Regions from separate parts of the Homo sapiens genome. Here region 1 is linked to region 2. Evidence: fine-mapped expression QTL. A gene starts in region 2. The other region holds a variant in brackets. All regions are shown on one strand. Distances are from middle to middle.

Region 1 (5,354 bases), 800 kb after region 2:
TTCGGTAGCTATTACACCGAGCTTTCTTTTCATCACACAGCTGGGTTGGTTCCACTATGTCTTATGTCCAGTATCTTCTTCTTTCTGGATTTTTCACTTTTGCTCTATTATTTTTTTCCATAAAGAATGTACGCTCACCGTTTTGAGTACTGGCATGTCCAAAGAAATCTTTTATTTTGCTCTCATACATGAAATGCTTTGACTGGTTGTAGAATCCCAGATTTGAAATAATTTTCTATAGAATTTGAAGGCATTATCCTAGCATCATTTCTAGCAACCATCATTTCTAGCCACCTGTGTTAGAGACGAAACACTTGATACCTATTCTTTCTTTTTCTTCTTATTCTTTGAATTAAGAAATTCCACCAGAATAGGTATAAAGTTGGCCCTTCCTATCCGTGGATTCTACATCCTTGGATGCGATGACACACAAATAAAAAATATTCAGGAAAAAAATTCCACAAAGCTCCAAAAAGCAAAACTTGAATTTGTTGCACCCTGAGTGCTATGTTGAATCCATGCGAATGAAGCGATGAGTAGGCATGGTTAGACATTGTATTAGGTATTGTATTAGGCATTGTATTAGGTATTATATTAGGTATTAGGTGTTGTATTATGTATTGTATTATGTATTGCATTAGGCACTGTATTAGGCACTATATTAGGTATTGTATTAGGCATTGTATTAGGTATTGTAGCAATCTAGAGATGACGTAAAGTATGCCTATCTAGGGATGTGCGTAGGTTATATACAAATGCTACACCACTTTATATGAGACTTGAGAATCTGCAGATTTCAGTATCTGAGGGGGATCCTGGAGCTAATCACTCTATGGATTATATGCATAATCCACAGGGAGGACTATATGTAAGGAATGGGGGTGTGTGTTAATTTCAGGTGGGTCGTTAATCTAAAGACTTGAGTCTTTGGCTCAAGTTATCTCTCTCTCACTTTCACAATTGTTTTGCCATTCTCTCTCTTTTTTTCTTTCCTTCTGGAAGTCCTACTTGACAAATATTAAATCTTCTGGAGCTATCCCCTCAGATTTAATTTTTCTCCCATATTTTCCATCTCCTAGTGGATGCAGAGTGACTTCTGGAGTGTTTGCCTGAAGGCGTTCTACTCACACACCTGCCCTCACAGAGTGCCCCATCGGGCGCCCCACGCAGAAATAAGCCAGTTGTGGTAACAGACCTATACAAACTCTGGAGGAAACTCATTGTAGCTTACAGAAACAATCAACTTGGCTTCCTGATTTTTAACCCTCAATTTCGCCTGCGACTGCGAGGTCCTGGAGGCATCGCCCAGCCCAACCCCACTGTACAGCCGGGAAGTCTGAGAGCCGGGGTACAGCGCGACCCGAGATGATCCCGCCCGCGGGAGGGCTCGGACTAGACGCAGGTCTCCTGACTCCCAGCTCGGGGCTTTGGCCGCTGTCTTCTGCTTGGTGCCCCGCGTCTTCGCGGTAGGTTGAGGTGGCCGGAGCATCTGGCCCTACCCTTCCCACACGCCACACTCCTGGGTCTCTGGCTCTGGGGTCCGCAGAATTTGCGCCTGCGCTAAGCCTTTGGCCAGGCTGCTCAGTGGCGGAACCAGCCCTCTTTGCCCTGGCAACGCGTCACTTGTTGTCATGGAGACCGCGTTGTTTACCTCTCTGTTCTGCAAGAGCTGGAAGCTCCAGTTGGGGTAAGGAGGCTCCCATCCCGAGCTTGCGTAGTGGTTCTGTGTGGCGCTGAGGTAAGTAAACCATGACCCCACCCCACCGACCCCTACCCGCAACCCTCCCCGCCTAACCAAATCCTTATGACGTTGGGATGAGCCCTAATTTAGGTCCCCACCTCTCTGGGGGCTATTCAGACTTATCCAGGAGCCTTGGGTTAAATGCTGGGCTCCACACTCAGATAAATTCGGTAGAAGCCATAAAAGGGACTGGGCTAGGAAGAAACGGAGAAACTCCATGTTGTCTGAGGGGGCTGGGTGGGCTGAGGTTCTCAGCCTAGTCAAGATCTGACTCTAGTTTCATCCTTATATATGTGAAGGCTTCAGAGATCCAGAGGCCCCTAAGAGCAGGGACTCAGACCTTAGGGTAGAGATGGGAGTGGGGGCAGATTTCAGCCCTGTCTGAGGAAGGCAGTTCTCATGGTCCATCAGAGTTGTATGAAGATGAAATGGGTAATTTTAGCGTTTCCACTGCCGACAGCCTCTGCCAGCTGGCTTCCCCTGTGTTGTTCCCCTTCCTGTTCTCTCCTTTTCTTTGTCCTGGAAGTTTTCAGATTCTTTTATGTGTTGAACAAGTTCAATACCCAGTTGTCAGTTTACACATGTTACATTTCCTCCTCCTCCTCCTCCTCCTCCTCCTTCTTCTTCCTCTTCTTTTTCTTCTTCTTTTTTTAAGAAAACATCTCTGGGCTCATCTGTTTGGCAGAACATTACTCCATGACCCAACAATTCTAATGAGTTATAAAAATGCATACACGTGTTCACCAAAAGACATGTATGAGACTATTAATAGCATTCTCATTATGGCCCTGGAGTGTAAACAACCCAAATATCCATAAACAGTAGAAAAGACAGCTAGATTTTATTCATATAACGGCACCTACACAGCAACGAGAACGAACAAACTGCAATCATATAGACAATATGGATGAATTTTACAAACATAATGTTGAGCTAAAGAAGTCAGAGACAGAATAATACATACTGTATTATTCCATTTATGTTAAATTCAAAAACAGCAAAACGAATTTGTAGTGTTAAAAGTCAGGATACTGGTTACCCTGAGGGGCTTGAGGTGGAGTAACTGGGAGGAGGTTAGAGATGCTGGTAATGCTTGTTTCTTGGTTTGGGTGCCGGCTACACAGATAGATTTATTTTGTGTACAGATTATGATTTATGCAATTTTCCGTATATA[T/C]GTCATCCTTGAATAAAAATTATCATAAAAAAGGACAAATTGCTTTCATTTAATCTAAAAGAGTCTGCTTTTGATCAGGAATTTGGAAACCTCAAATGGCTAAACTATTACAACCTCCACCCAAGTTCCTGCCCTCAGAGTGGCACATTGCTAACAAGAACCAGTACCACAGAGCAGACGCTCAAAGGTCCCGATCAGAACGCCTGGTCGCAGAAAGCCAGAGGCTTGTGGATGAAATTGAAAAGACCACAAGAAAATCTCAAAGCGATGTGAACAAGAAACTAGGTAAGACAACATGCTTGGCATATTCGTGAACATGCTAGGATGAGGCTGTTGAGTTTAGCTATAGTGTCATGTTCAGATGTGGCAACATATTATTTTTGAATATTAGAGAAAATCATGTGTATTCTCCAGGTTCTATGTTTAAGTTCACTGCCCTAAGATAGACACAAGGTAACCCAGCCTGATTTTCAGCCACCCATCATTCATTTATTTGTTGATTTGATGCACAGTTATTGAGCATCTATGGGCATCTATGTACTACACACTAGGCATATCACAGGGAATGATCAGAATCTCTGCTTTTTAGGGGCTTCTAACTTGAAGAGGATAAAGATACAAAAATTAATCATCAGAATACAGTCAGCCCTTTGTATCCATGGGTTCAGCCAGTTGTAGGTCCAAAATACTTAGGAAAAAAAAACAATAAAAGATTACAACAATTAAAGAATACAAATAAAAACAATACAGTTCAACAGCTATTTACATAGTATTTGCATTGTATTAGGTATTATAAGTAATCTGAAGATGATTTAAAGTATACTGGCTGGGTGTGGTAGCATGTGCTGTTAGTCCCAGCTACTTGGAGGGCTGAGGCAGTAGGATCCTGTAAGCCCAGGAGTTAGAGACCACCCTGGGTGATATACCAAGACCCTGTTTCATAAAAAAAAAAAAAAGAAAGAAAAAGAAAGGAAGAATGAAAGAGAGAAAGAAAGAAAGAAAGAGAAAGAAAAGAAAGAGAAAAGGAAAGTATATGGGAAGATGTGCATAGGTTATATGAAAACACTACACCATTTTGTATAAAAGACTTGAGCATCCATGGATTTTGGTGTCTGTCAGGGACTCTGGAACAAATCCTCTGAGGATACCAAGGGACAGGTGTATAACCAGATAGGTGCTGGGGTAGGGGAACAAAGACGGGGCGGAGTAGATGTGAAAAATTGGAAAAGTTTTTCTAGAGAAGAACATTTACTTGAGTCTTAAAAGGAGTCATTTTCTCTTGACAATTCCTTACTTAAAACAGTATTTACTTAAATTTCTTGAGACAGAGTCTCGCTCCATCACACAGGCCAGAGTACAGTGGCACAATCTCAGCTCACTGCAATCTCTGCCTTCCAGGTTCGAGCGCTTCTCCTGCCTCAGCCTCCTGAGTAGCTGGGATTACAGGCGTGCACCATCACACCCGGCTAATTTTTGTATTTTTGGTAGAGACGGGGTTTCATCATGTTGGCCAGGCTGGTCTTGAACTCCTGACCTCAGGTGGTCCGCCCGCCTCAGCCTCCCAAAGTCTGGGATTACAGGCACGAGCCACCGCACCCTGCCTAAAACAGTATTTAAAAGGTAGCGTTCTTTAGCAAAGATCTCAGGAAAGCACATTTAAAAAAAAAGATAGTATCCTTAAATAATCAAAACAAAAATAAACATAAAACAAAACAAACAACCAACGTCGGCTAAATGCCAAAAAGGGATTAACCAGGGGTAACCAACTCGACTATCTATAGGGACCAAGCAGGTAGCATAGGGATTGAATGTAAGGCATTAGGGTTTAGTAGGGACTGTGGGGACCTGGAGAACGTGTGCCCCATCTAAGGAGGAAGCTGCTACTCAGTTTCAACCCATTGCTTCCAAGAAAGAACATGAGCCCAGTGTTGCCTGATTGTCCGATTTTTTCAAGAAAATCTGGAAAGCAGGAATTTATTCACGTTTTAAATGTTGGTAACTGACTTAATTTATTTATAACACTGGGCCAGCTGAACAAACACGTTTATGGATCAAACCTGGTCTGAGGACTGTAGTTTTCTAATTTCCAGTAAATGAAACCTTCATTCAGGTCAGCAATGTTAGATGTTAGGCTCTCCTAATAGGTTGACCCTTACATTGATACCACCCTGTAGATAGGCCTGTTCTAAATAATTGTGCAAATAGGTAGGTGTTAAAAATGAGAAGGCGCCCGGGCATGGTGGCTCACGCCTGTGATTCCAGCACTTTGGGAGGCCAACGTGGGCGGATCACAAGGTCAGGAGATTGAGACCATCCTGGCTAACATGGTGAAACCCTGTCTTTACTAAAAATACAAAAAATTAGTGGGGCATGGTGGCATGCATCTGTAGTCCCGGTTACTCAGGAGGCTGAGGCAGGAGAATCGCTTGAACCAAGGAG
Region 2 (5,373 bases):
GGGTTCGTGTGGATTAAACGAGATGACAGTGGTAGAGGGATGCCCAATAACTTGGTTTTGTTCCCTTTCCTCAGACCAGCTCCAGACATCCCTCCCCTGAGGACCAGAGCTAGCTTACCTGGTGCCATCTCCCATCATCCAGCCGTGGTCCAGCACCCACCGTAAGCTGGGCCCAGTGATTGTGCAGTTGGATCTCAGGCCTGCCGTCTCGAAGTCCCAGCATAAACCAGTCATCCTTAGGGTTGGTATCCCCATAAAAAATCACTCCCTCTGGGTCCCAGGTTCGAACCTCAAAGGAGGAGGAGGTTCTGGAAGGACACAGAAGGAAAGATTGTGTATGTCATGTGTCCTTTGAGAACCAGTGTGGGTTTGGGGGAGATGGTGTTCACAGATAAGGAAAGGAAGACAGGGAAAAGAGAAGAGCTGATGGAGAGAGGGCAGAACCAGGGGACTGGGTCAAGGGCTAGGCCAACCCCATACTTTGTGATCTTGGTGAGGTCAAAGGTCATGACAGCGATAGGCTCTTGTCCTGGGCCATTGCTGAGGTGGACAGCCGGAGGGTCGTGGGCACTCTATCAGAAAGAGAAAACAAACAAAGCTGAGTAGGGACATGTCAGAGACAGACAGAGGGAGAGGCCCTGCTACAGGGCCAGAGGAGAGAAGGGAAGACTGCATGAGCTGAGTGCCCTGTCCCGCTCCTGCACCTGGGTGGGGAGAACAGGTCTCAGGGCCCATCCCTGGCGGGTGTGACGCAGTAGTAGCAACAGCAGCAACAGCAGCAGGCGCGAGGTAGCCAGTGGGCCTCTGCTCTCCATAATCAGCCACTGTCCACTCGGCGGCTCAGACAACTCTTGGGAGAATGTGTAGAGGCAGGCAGCCTTGCGTGTGGGCGGTGGAGGGTTAAAGGTTGCCCGGGGAGGAGGGGGTAAAGGAAACAGGGGCACTGACCCTTGACCCCTGCCCAGGGGCCCAGTCACAAGACTCAGCTATCACCCCTCTGGGGATCAATGGGGTGAAGGACAGAGTCCCCTCCACTATCATCCTCCACTGCCGAGAAAGTTTCTGAACTGGGAGAGGATATTCCATCTCCCCTCTCCTCCTCTAGGGCCTGATCTAGGTCCTCCAAGATTTCTGTCCACTCGGGGAGCCTGCATTCACAGGCCTGAGGTCTAGAAACAGTCCTCCCCTGCGTCCCAAGTAGCATCCTGTATCAGGACTAGAAATGAGATAATGGAATCCTAAATTTCTAGCTGAGTGACCTTGGGCAAGTCACTTCACCTCTGTGCTTCAGTGTCCTTGTCTGTAAAATGAGGAAAATAATACTTTACGGGGTGACTGTGAAAGAGGGTTCATTGAGAAAATGCAGGCACAGTGCCTGGCATCTGGTCTGAACTCCTCCCCCAGTCTTTTCCCAGGCCTCTGAGGCCTGTCTCCCAAGAAGGTATTGTCTGTGTGTATGATTCAGTGAATATTAAGAAGGGACCTGCCCCCCGCCTCTCAGTTATCTTCCCTTATCCATTTATTACAGGGCCTAAACAGTCTAGCAGTAGAAATCACCCACTCCCTGACCCATTTTATTTTATTTTATTTTATTTTATTTTATTTTATTTTAGACAGAGTCTTGCTCTATCACCCAGGCTGGAGTGCAGTGGCGTGATCTCGGCTCACTGCTGCCTCTGCCTCTCGAGTTCAAGCGATCCTCCTGTCTCAGCCTCCTTAGTAGTTGGGACTACAGGTGCACGCACCACCACGCCCAGCAAATTTTTTTGTGTTTTTAGTAGAGACGGGGATTTCACCACGTTGCCCAGGCTGATCTCGAACCTCTGACCTGAAATGATCCGCCCACCTCAGCCTCCCAAAGTACCTGGATTACAGGCATTAGCCACAAGGCCCGACCCTCCCTGACGCATTTTATTTTATTTATTTATTTTGAGATGGAGTTTCGCTTTTGTTGCCCAGGCTGGAGTGCAATGGCACGATCTCGGCTCACTGTAACCTCCACCTCCCAGGTTCAAGCGATTCTCCTGTCTCAGCCTCCCGAGTAGCTGGGAGTAAAGGCATGCGCCACCACACCTGTCTAATTTTTGTATTTTTAGTAGAGACGGGGTTTCACCATGTTGGTCAGGCTGGTCTCAAATTCCTGATCTCAGGTGATCCGCCTGCCTCTGCCTCCCAAAATGCTGGGATTACAGGTGTGAGCCACTGTGCCCACCCCATGACCCATTTTAAAATGCAAATGACAGACCGGGCTTGGTGGGTCACATCTGTAATCCCAGCACTTTAGAAGGCTGAGGCGGGCAGATCACTTGAGGTCAGGAGTTCCAGACCAGCCTGGCCAACATAGTGAAACCCCGTCTCTACTAAAAATACAAAAATTAGCCAGGTATGGTTGCCCATGCCTGTAATCCCAGCTACTCCGAGGGTGAGGCAGGAGAATCGCTTGAACCCAGGAGGGAGAGGTTGCAGTGAGCCGAGATCGCGCCACTGCACTCCAGCCTGAGTGACAGAGTGAGAATCCGTTAAAACAAAAAAAAAGAGAAGAAAAAAGAAAAAAAAATTAGCCGGGCGTGCCGGTGCGCGACTGTAGTTCCAGCTACTCCGGAGGCTGAGACAGGAGGATCGCTTGAACTCGGGAGGTGGAGGCTGCAGTGAGCAGAGATCGCGCCACTACACCCCAGCCTGGGCGACAAAGCAATACACCATCTCCAAAAATAAATAAATAAATAAATATAAAAATAAAACATTTAAAAAATGCAAATGCCCCCAAGAGGTAACACTTCATGCTACTCAAGAGCTGCAGGAAACAGCTTTCAGAGCTGAGGGTCTTAAGGCTTACCCAGGGTCTGGGCGGGTGAGTGAGCCTGAGGCTAAAGCAGGTTATCACTGCATATGTCAATTTAAAAAGCACTGCGGGGGAGCCTTTGAACCGCGGGGTATCTCGACCCAGGTTGGGACACCCACACAACCGCAAGGAAGCCGCTTCACTCCAACCTTGAACTCTACCCAGGAGCCCAGTCACAAGATCCAGCTGTCGGGGGTGGGGCTTGGGGGGGACGCGGCCGTGCCTGTTCTCCAAGCTGATTGGCTGACAGTTGTGCCCCCTGCTGCGACAGAATTCGAGGGGGTGGGGCTATGCCCGGACAGAGGATCGCCTCGCTGGCCTACTCTCTCCTCCCGTACGGCGCCGGAATCCCAGCTCCACTTACCAGGCCGCGGCTACCCCGCCGTCCCCCCCGACTCCCGCCACCCCGCTCTCTCAGGCTCTTCAGGATCCAAGTCCGTAGGCCCTTTAAGGGGTCTAGTTGCCGTTTGCGAGGCCCTGGGACTTTGGTCCCAGACAGCGGGGATCCGGATGGCTTCCGTGCGGATCCGAGAGGCCAAGGAGGGAGACTGTGGAGATATCCTGAGGCTGATTCGGGTGAAGACTGCAGGCCGGTAACCCGGGGGTCAGAGTGGCGCGGCCAGAGCGGGGTCGTAGGAGGCGGGGGCAGGGGGAGGGGCTCGCCTTGGGAACCTGCTCGGGGAGCAGCGGGGCCCTTCTGCTCTAATCTAGCTTCCGTACCCACGCCTTAGGAGCTAGCCGAATTCGAAAAACTCTCGGATCAGGTGAAGATCAGTGAAGAAGGTGGGGGCTCAGCGCCCAGGTTCTGGCGGAGGCTGGGGAGGAAATGAGGGATGGGTTCCCCAGGCGACAGCTCCAGGCTGGGCATACACCCACGTCCTCTTTCTCTATCTCTTTGTCACAACTCCAATCTCGGCAGCCCTGAGAGCAGATGGCTTTGGAGACAATCCTTTCTATCACTGTTTGGTAGCAGAGATTCTTCCAGCGCCCGGGAAGCTACTGGGTAAGAGCACCTGGCCCTTAGAAGTCCACCTCTCCAGCCGGCCTCAGAGGTCTCCCCACAGGCTTCCAGAAGCCTTACTCCCCTTTTCTCTCTCTCAGGGCCCTGCGTGGTGGGCTATGGGATATACTATTTCATCTACAGTACATGGAAGGGACGCACCATTTATCTGGAGGATATCTATGTGATGCCGGAATATCGGGGTACTGGGCAGAAGCTGAGGCTGGGGTGGGAGCAAAGCACCCCACAGACCCCACTGTTATCCCCTGTCCCCAGAGCCCAGCCGGTGTCATTTTCTGATCCCCTTCAGCTCAAACAATAGCTATTTTTTGCCTCTTTCTCTCCACAACAGGTCAAGGGATTGGTTCCAAAATAATCAAAAAGGTGGCTGAGGTGAGGAGATGGGTGGGGCGACAAGTGAGGACCTGAAGAAGCAAGGGTATATGGAGGGGGGACCCGGGTTGAAAGAGGGAGTGAGAAAACCTTTTTCTTTTTTGACCCCAGAAAAGTTAGTGTTGTCTTCTCCCACAGGTGGCCTTGGATAAGGGCTGCTCCCAATTCCGCCTGGCCGTCCTGGACTGGAACCAGAGGGCCATGGACTTGTACAAGGCCCTAGGAGCCCAAGATCTGACGGAAGCTGAGGGCTGGCACTTCTTCTGCTTTCAAGGAGAGGCAACGAGAAAGTTGGCAGGAAAGTGACGCCATCCCTAGGAGGATCTCTGTCTTGAGTTTCTCCTTCCCCATCAGCTGAAGCACTCTTCAGAGACTACGTCCACAGACACTGATGCTGAGGCCTCCCTGGAGGAAGGAGGGTTAGGGGTGCCTATCCTCAAGTATTGGAAGAGCAGAATTGAGGGAGAGACCTTTCTTCCTTGTTGAGGGTGAAAAATAAATAAGAATTACATGTCCTGATGTGGTGTTGGGTCTTTCTTTTATTTCTTTTTTTTTTTTTTTTTGAGACAGAGTCTCTGTCGCGCACGCTGGAGTGCAGTGGTGCGAACTCCGCTCACTGCAACCTCTGCCTCACGGGTTCAAGCAATTATCCTGCCTCAGCCTCCCGAGTAGCTGGGACTACGGGTGCGCACCACCATGCCCGGCTAATTTTTAGTAGAGACGGTGTTTCACCATACTGGCCAGGCTGGTCTCCAACTCCTGATCTCGTGATCCGTCCGCCTCGGCCTCGAAAAGTGCTGGGATTACTGGTGTGAGCCACTGCACCCAGTCCAAAGTCTTTTTTTTTTTTTTTGAGATCAAGTCTTGCTGTTGTCCTCAGGCCAGAGTGCAAGGAGTGCAAAGGTTTGATCTTGGCTCACTGCAACATCCGCCTCCCGGGTTCAAGTGATTCTCCTGCCTCAGACTCCCGAGTAGCTGGGATTACAGGCGCCTGCTACCACATGCGGCTAATTTTCGTATTTTTAGTAGAGACGGGGTTTCACCTTGTTGGCCAGGCTGGTCTCAAATTCCTGACCTCAGGTAGTCCGACTGCCTCGGCCCCCCAAAGTGCTGGGATTACAGGTGTGAGCCACCGCGC

Evidence for each region. PIP is the estimated chance that this variant, and not a neighbour inherited with it, causes the effect.
Region 1: its variant is fine-mapped to the expression of SAT2 in thyroid (GTEx, PIP 0.97).

What each region holds. Positions count from the first base shown.
Region 1 is chr17:6,828,033-6,833,386 of GRCh38, reverse strand. TEKT1 (tektin 1) reads left to right here and starts at 1,658. Exons shown (of 8, transcript NM_053285.2): 1 at 1,658-1,738; 2 at 2,994-3,200. The coding sequence starts at 3,011. RefSeq lists a silencer at 1,646-1,695. The variant T/C (reference allele first, on the strand shown) is at 2,916.
Region 2 is chr17:7,625,615-7,630,987 of GRCh38, reverse strand. SAT2 (spermidine/spermine N1-acetyltransferase family member 2) reads left to right here and starts at 3,167. Exons shown (of 6, transcript NM_133491.5): 1 at 3,167-3,418; 2 at 3,574-3,625; 3 at 3,762-3,845; 4 at 3,944-4,045; 5 at 4,195-4,235; 6 at 4,374-4,754. The coding sequence starts at 3,353. The coding sequence ends at 4,541. It overlaps SHBG (sex hormone binding globulin), which reads right to left and starts at 853. Exons shown (of 8, transcript NM_001040.5): 1 at 705-853; 2 at 481-572; 3 at 119-308. The coding sequence starts at 815. RefSeq lists enhancers at 3,179-3,258, 3,739-3,788 and a silencer at 3,469-3,528.